Linked DNA regions of Homo sapiens: region 2 is linked to region 1. A link means that fine-mapping ties the variant in region 1 to the expression of a gene that starts in the linked region. Tissue or cell type: whole blood. Region 1 holds a variant in brackets; the other region holds the start of a gene. All regions are shown on one strand. Distances are between the middles of the regions.

Evidence for each region. PIP is the estimated chance that this variant, and not a neighbour inherited with it, causes the effect.
Region 2: it holds the start of MOB3B, and the variant in region 1 is fine-mapped to the expression of MOB3B in whole blood (TOPMed, PIP 0.92).

The regions. Positions count from the first base shown.
Region 1 is chr9:27,497,214-27,501,567 of GRCh38, forward strand. The region is part of intron 1 of MOB3B (MOB kinase activator 3B); the gene reads right to left. Among named protein-coding and RNA genes, the nearest start is that of IFNK, 25 kb to the right of the region's middle. The variant A/T (reference allele first, on the strand shown) is at 1,788.
Region 2 is chr9:27,528,294-27,532,293 of GRCh38, forward strand. It overlaps MOB3B (MOB kinase activator 3B), which reads right to left and starts at 1,521. Exons shown (of 4, transcript NM_024761.5): 1 at 1,262-1,521. It overlaps LOC124902107 (dapper homolog 3-like), which reads left to right and starts at 163. Exons shown (of 2, transcript XM_047424279.1): 1 at 163-433; 2 at 727-2,407. The coding sequence starts at 163. The coding sequence ends at 1,715. RefSeq lists silencers at 249-298, 1,269-1,568.

The DNA.
Region 1 (4,354 bases):
CCTTTTGACTCACAAATCACTTCTGGGAAATTTTCCTAAGGAAAAAGCATAGATTTCCACAAAGCTTGGATGTGAAAGCTTGTGAATGTCTTTATCACAACATTGTTTAATATTTAAATTCAGAAAAACCTAACTTCCCAAAAATCATGGAGTATCCATACTATAGAATTCTATATAGACATATGAAAAGCTTTAATAAAATATTTAAGGATATTAAAATATTTATGATTTAGTATTATACAAATATAAGAAGACAATGAGAATAATTTCTAGAATTATCACAATTTCCTAAAAAATATATATACATATTTGACTGTAAAGAAATAAACTCAGAACTTACTAATAATTATGTCTAGTTTCAGGTGATTTTAATTTCTTTTCTGTACTTTCCTAAATTTTTGTAGTTTTATATGTTCTAAATTAAATATATATTACTTTGTAATTAAAATATAAAATGTTTTACTTATTCCTTTCTCTTAGCAATGTGAATATAGTCTTCCTACATGGGGAATTAATCACTAGATTAGTAGGAAATTAATGAAATTAACAATGGATGAACAAAAAGTTAACTTACCACATACATTTGGCTTTAACTTCTTGTATGTAAATAAATTCCTCCCAGTAGATTCTCTACCAACTACCTCCAGTTTCTATTAGCTGATCCTTGTTTAGAAGCAGTCCACTGATTTTTAGTAAATCAAAATGAAACTCCAAGAAAGACAAGAAGATGAAATGTGAAAAGGAAGCTGGCCTTGGTGCTATGCACAGTGATGGAAACCATGAATATGAATAGATGGAGCATTCGGATAGCAGGATAATAGAAGAGGGAAATGCATTCATTTGACAGCTGCCAACTCCCCCTCCCTGCACTGTCACTTCCCGGCTGCCCACCCCCTTCTCCAGGCCTTGATTCCCAGCCCACAGAAACGCCGTGGTGCGTGTAGCCTCTATGGTGTTCTCACACTCCAAAAGCGCAGAAAATAAAAGGCCACTATGTTGAAAGCTTGTGCCTCATAGAGTAACAACAGTGCTAAAAGTGCTTAAAAATACGTTACTACTTTTCATATCAATCACAGCGTTTTCCAAGCTACTCCCCAACCTACTGTGAGGTACAAGGGTGAGCATTGTTTAATTGGCTTTGGGAGTCGTATGAGCTGTGCGAGACCTTTAATTAGAGGAGCTGGTGGAATAAGCGTGTGATGTGTGTGTTAGGGAGGGGTGGGCTGGTTCTGCCATGGTCTTTGTAATCCCTTTGCAAATGCACCTTTGGACAAACTTAAAAGAAAGTAGAGGAAAGTTAGAAGAACTTGCTTCTTACTAAAAGAAGTTCAAGGTAGCAGTACCCTAGGTTTTGTTCATGTGCCTAATCTCTGAATTCAAATACCACTTAATAATGATGCTTAAACTGTTTATTCTCAATGTCAGAATGTTCTCATCTAGGTCAACAGAGAAAACCCTGATTTGTAGTACTGGGGTCTCATCCCAGAGACTGTTGGTGCTGAGGCACATGCACCATTGAAAGGGGAAAGTTATTCAGTACTAGCAGCAGTTGCTATGTAGAGATAAAGACCTGACATTGCTGGATCTTATGATTCTTTAAGCGTAATTGGAAATCTATTTTTTAGGTGAAATCTGTATTTTTATAGGTTGATAACTTAAAAGAAAAATCAACACTTTCTATGAGCAAACAAAACATCTCTGTGGGCCAAAATAGGCCTGTGGACCTCTGATTCAGGAAGAAGAGGATCTTAACACAAGATTTTTTAAGCACATTTTAAAGTGCACCA[A/T]ATTTATCTGTATATGCATAAATTATTATCCAATAAATTCAGTAGAAAAGAACCATGAATTTAAATTCTAAACCACCTGACCAATTTATCTGAATCAGCTCCTAAAATCATTTTGGGTCTATTTTCCTCCTTTAATTAAAATAAGAATAATCTACTAAAGTTTTACAATTTAAATATTGACAATTATATTTATTTTTGCATCTCAGAGCCACTGCTGATGTATTTCTTTTATGTATGAAGAGACTGAGGAACAAGGAAAAATCACAGAAAAGCCAGAGGATGAAGCTGGAATGCAAGAGTCCTGTCTCTTTATGATTCAACAATCAAATAAAAACCTTCTCTAAAAAATGACCAAGAAAGCAAGCTTATTAGGTTCATGAACAGAGTCATCACGTAAACAAATTACTTCTATAATAGTCCCAGTAAAATGATCTCAGGTTCTTATTTAAAACTCATGGAAAGGAAATATGTCAGGTTAAGACATCTTTATCTGTTTTTAACAACTGGAATATTAATCATATCTAATTCAATGTATATTTCAAAATGAGTAACTCACATATTCACAGCACTGTCCAAATTAATGAACAGGTCCCATTACCTAGGACTCATACTTTAACATTTACTAATTCGCTTTCCACACTGCCATTTCTCGTTAGAATGGCAACTTCTAGTTTGTGAAGGAAATGAGTCATTCCATGCAACTATCCCACCTTCTGAAGGACAAGTCACAGCAGGAAATGAATGGCTTTTGGTTTTTTTTTCTGCACTAGTACAGAAAAACAATGTATCTAATACTGAAGGATCTGAACTTTGGGACAATCACTTTTTCTAGATATTGTTTGCAACTTTCAGAACATTCTTATAAATTAATGTAAATTAGAATTATAATTTTGCCATTGTGTTATGTTGAAATGAAATCTACAGCTATCACTAAATGTTTATGAATTTTCCATCTACAATCAACCTTTCAATTAGTCTTATACAAAGTCGGTCTCAAGTTAGATTTCTGGTTTTTACATCTAACTTAAATGCATCTTGTGGTTAAATGCTGTGGAAGGTTTGACTAGACCTCAGAACTATCAATAACTTATAAATAATGGTTAAAAATCACCATTAAAGTGTGTATAGCAGAAACCTAGAACTGAAATTCACTTGAATTGAGTCTGGTTCACCTTATTTAGTTTCTTCCTTATTTAGTTTCAAATTCCCTGTGCTGGGTTGGGGGGTGGGGAGAACCCTGTGACTTATAGATATATAAAGTGTCTTGTGAGAAATGCAAAATTCCTTCGTAAAACTACCTTATCATGCTGTCCAAATTATAGAAAGCACAAACAAGTGTCCTCACTTAGACAAAAGGCTACAGTAACCAAAACAGCATAGTACTGATACCAAAACAGAGATATAGACCAATGGAACAGAACAGACGCCTCAGAAATAACACCACAAATCTACAACCATCTGATCTTTGACAAACCTGACAAAAACAAGAAATGGGGAAAGGATTACCTATTTAATAAATGGTACTGGGAAAACTCGCTAGCCGTATGTAGAAAGCTGAAACTGGATCCCTTCCTTACACCTTATACAAAAATTAATTCAAGATGGATTAAAGACTTAAACATTAGACCTAAAACCATAAAAACCCTAGAAGAAAACCTAGGCAATACCATTCGGGACATAGGCATGGGCAAGGACTTCATGACTAAAACACCAAAAGCAATGGCAACAAAAACCAAAACTGTCAAATGGGATCTAATTAAACTAAAGAGCTTCTGCACAGCAAAAGAAACTACCATCAGAGTGAACAGGCAACCTACAGAATGGGAGAAAATTTTTGCAATCTACCCATCTGACAAAGGGTTAATATTCAGAATCTACAAAGAACTTAAACAAATTTACAAGAAAAAAACAAACAACCCCATCAAAAAGTGGGCAAAGGATATGAACAGACACTTCTCAAAAGAAGACATTTATGCGACCAACAAACATATGAAAAAAAAACCTCATCATCACTGGTCATTAGAGAACTGCAAATCAAAACCACAATGAGATACCATCTCACACTAGTTAGAATGACGAACATTAAAAAGTCAGGAAACAACAGATGCTGGAGAGGATGTGGAGAAATAGGAATGCTATTACACTGTTGGTGGGAGTTTAAACTAGTTCAACAATTGTGGAAGACAGTGTGGTGATTCCTCAAGGATCTAGAGCTAGAAATACCATTTTACCCAGCGATCCCATTACTGGGTGTATACCCAAAGGATAATAAATCATGCTACTATAAAGACACATGCACACGTATGTTTATTGCGGCACTATTCACAATAACAAAGACTTGGAACCAACTCAAATGCCCATCAATGATAGACTGGATTAAGAAAATGTGGCACATACATACCATGGAATACTATGCAGCCAAAAAAAGGATGAGTTCATGTCCTTTGCAGGGACATGGAGGAAGCTGGCAACCATCATTCTGAGCAAACTACCACAAGGACAGAAAGCCAAACACTGCATGTTCTCACTCATAGATGGGAACTGAACAATGAAAACACTTGGACACA
Region 2 (4,000 bases), 31 kb after region 1:
CCTAGCAGCGGCCCAGCCCCAACGCCTTTGGCTAGAGATTGAAATCCTCTGGAACCAACCACTGGACGCTCTGGATTGGGGCGGAACGCGCTTCCACTGTCTCGAAAGCAGCACCTTCTCGGATTTGAGCCTTTGCGGCGCGCCTGGGCTGAGATCTGAGAAATGCGCCCTGGGCCACAGGCAGCAGCGGAGGCGGGGAAGGAACAACTTTCCCTCCGCCCTCTAACCACAAGGGCGGGGTGGGGCGGCCTCGCTGGGGTCGGGCTCCTCCACTTTCCCAGCTGGGATCCCCTGCCGGAGCTGGCGTGGGGGCCGGGGAGGGGGACCAGAGGGGCTTCCTTCTCTCCCCAAGCCCCGCCAGATGTTGGAAAGGCAAACAATAGGGGAAACGCGGAGAAACAAAAGGCCATTCGCCACGATCTCAGTCGGCTGCGTAGAGAGATCTCTGTGGGGAGGGTTAGGGGAGAGGGTCAGGAAAGAGCGCGAGGGGGGGGATCCCGAGAGATTTAGAGTCTCTGGTACTTGCCAGGCACCAGGGGTCGGCGCTTTACCCTCCCAGCAGGGGTCTGAAGGTGGGAAGGGGCAATCAAAGAAAACTTGAAGGGTTTTCACCTTCTTCCCCAGTTCAGGGAAAGGGAGGGGCTGGGATTCCAGATGTTTGACAGTTGTTGGCCCCAAAGTTAAGCGCGATTTGTACGGCCTTTACACGCTCCCCACCTCCGTGAGGCATCGTCAGCCCCGGGGGCGACCTGGCTGACGGTGCGGACTTCCCCTACGCTGCCCCAAGCCGAGACTCCTCCCTCAGGATCAGGACGCCCAAGCGTTGTCCCCCAGCCCAGGCGCACTTTTGTAAAAGTTTGTCTTCCCGCCACCCACAGCCCAACACGCACCCTGCAGGCGTCCGCGGCTGGGGATGGGCTCGGAGTCTTGCACCCCGAAAGAAGGACGATCTTATTGATTTATATCTTTTCAAATCAAGGACAAATCAAGATCCCGGGGTGGAAAGTGGGCGACCCTTGTTCCTGCCGGGAAGTGCACACGAGGAGCCGGCCAGAAACCCAGGCGCCGGCAGGGGTCTGAAGAGGACTCCAGCCCCGGAAGCCCGTGGCCGGCGGGCAGAAGACCGGTCCGCCGCCTCCCGCACCTTCTTGCACCCGCGCCCAGGTGCGCCCCAAACCTCGCCGCCCGCCCGGGCGAGATCGGGAGCGAGCAGCCACCGGGCTGCGCCGCCTCCCCTAGCTTGGAGCGGGTTCTTACTCACCGTGGGGTTTTACCTCCAGCCCAGGGCCCGGTCGGCTCCCTTCGCCGGGTCAGCTGCAGCCAGCGCGAAAGAAAATGGTGAGCTCGGGGCAGGTGGGGCGTCGCTTGCCAATCCACGCAAGGGACTCTGCCGCCGGTGCGCGAGGTCCCGGCGAGCCAACCGGCGGACGGGCGAGCGCCTGGCTCCAGCTGCAGCCGCCGTCGCTCCGGAGCAGCCCCCTCATGCACCCAGCGCGCCGCGCAGCCGGCCGGGGCTCGACTGTCTCGCGGGGACGCCGAGCGGGGACCCCTGGCGGCCGCCTGCGGTATGGCAGCACCGTGGAGAGAAAAGTCGTCTTTGGGATCATCTTCCCTCCGGAAAGAGATGGGACATGACCAGTCTAAGGGGGCTTCCAGCCTTGCAGAAAAGACACTGGGCCAGGGCAGTGAAGAAGGTGTCAGATCAGAAAGGATGATCTCTGGGTCCACAACGGCCACTTCCAAGGCACCTAGAGAGGGGGAAACAGTTTGCCTTCCCCAGGATTTTCTGATTGTTGAAAAATACCATGAACTGCCTGACACAGAGCGGAGCATAAATCATTGGAAAATACTCAGATTCTAGTGGATTTACTAGAACACACTGGGAGTCATGGATGAACCTGGATTTTAAAGCTCAACCCACAGCCCGCCACTCTCTACTTGTGTGGTCTTGGTCTATCTACAACCTTAAAGCCTCAGTATTCTCCTCCGTAAATTGGCGGGGAGCAATATCACCCTTGCAGGGTGATGGTTACGGGTAAACTACATTTGAAACGTTTTTATAGTTTATAGTAACAGAAATCAAATATGAGCTTCCTGCCTTCTGGAGAAAAAGAATTGGATCTTTCACATTTTTCTATTACCCATATGATCACATCTTAATGCATATTGATTGAACTGTACCAAATGACGAAGTACTGCATTTTACCATTCTTACTACACACTTCAAAGAGGTGTGGAAATATATTAAGTAGAAATTAGGATATATAGAGAAAACATCCCTCCTCCAAAAGAGGTTTCTGCAACTAACTACGAAGTGAGAACTTCTAAAATCACTTACATCTTTTGCAATATCATCTCAGATATTGTAAGAAACATTTAATAAATAGTCATGACTTAATGATATCAACCCTGGATTAAATGACTCTAATTCTGTGTCACTTTTGTGTAATGTAAAGATACCGATTGTGAATATAAGACTCAAATATGGGAAAACTGCCAGATACAAAAATACAGCCGCTAAGCAATATTTCTGTTCATCACCGAGGAATCTCATTTCCAAAGTGCCCCAGTTTTTAAGAGGAAGAACACCAGAGTCAGACAGACCCATAGCAGCTGAGTCTAACCTTTCTGAAGCTCTGTTACCTCATCTTATAAAATGAGGATAATATAGGTAGCTGTCATTCAATGAAGGAATGCATACAACATGCTTAGCATAACACCTGTCACATGGTAAGTGCTCCAGGGTCACCACCTATCATTGTTTCCAGCATACAGTTATCACCCCACCGACATGTAGCCCCTCCCTCATGAGCTCAAGAGCCCCCAGCACGTGTTCTACTCACACACGCACAAGCTTCAGTGTCCCTTAAGATGTTATCTCCTGGAAAGTAGGAACAGAAAGAGAATATTTTCAGGTAGTTTGGAACAGAATGAATAACATTCACATTCCTTGCCCAAGTCAGTACAGATTAATTTCCATCATTTCCAACTCATACTTTATACATTTCCCATAAGAGGAAAATCATGCTGGTTTTCAGTAGCATATGAAAAAAAAAAAATTCCAAGAGGATTCTTTTGCCAAGCCACTTCATTACAGCTTCCCCTTAGAGGATACCAAAGAAGCACAGGGATATTGGAAAGGTGTCACCATAGCAACATTGTAATAGACAGATGACAATAGAGTAAAAGCGAAGAAAGCACATTTGCATAGTCATTGACAAACTTGGACCTACAGTCATATTGCTCTGGGCAGCAGTGCTCAGAGTCCAAGGGCTACTCAAAGTAAATTTGGTAAGAGGCTATTTCTATTCATTTTGGCTGAGTCTGACTACCCAGTTCATTGTGCTCATGTGTGTGCTAATTGTAATTGTTACAGGCAGTTCACTAACAAACAGCAGACATCCTCAAGAGTCCCTTTCATCCTAAGCAATGTGAGTTCACAAATCTAAATGTGTACCTAATAAATCTTCAATAGTAAAGCGTACTTCCTCCTTACCTGCTTCTGTTTTGTTTTCAAAACCTTAAATAGTCACAGGTATAGAGAAATTGTCTCAATGCTTATGGGAGCTTCTGTGATAACTTATGTTAATTAACTCTGGGTACTGAAAAGAAACAAACGTGCATGGCTTCCCCTAAGCACTGAGGTAATGGCAATTCAAATAACAGCAAATTTATATATGTGATATACACAGATTTATATATATATAAATATATCACATATAGATATATAAGAAGACATCATATATATATACACACACATTTTAGAGATCATATATATCTTTTAAGCAATTTCAAACCATACAAGAATCCATATATGATCTTAAGGCATAATTTCTGCCAGCATACTTCTCAACATTTATAATGACACTAAATGTCTATAGTCGTTTCCTCTGAAATGCACATTACATCAATCCCTTTTTGTGAAAGTGGAACTAAGGCATAAAAAGGTCAGAGTTCAGGAGCTGGGAAGAACATATGACAGTGTTCAAAGTTGTTTCAG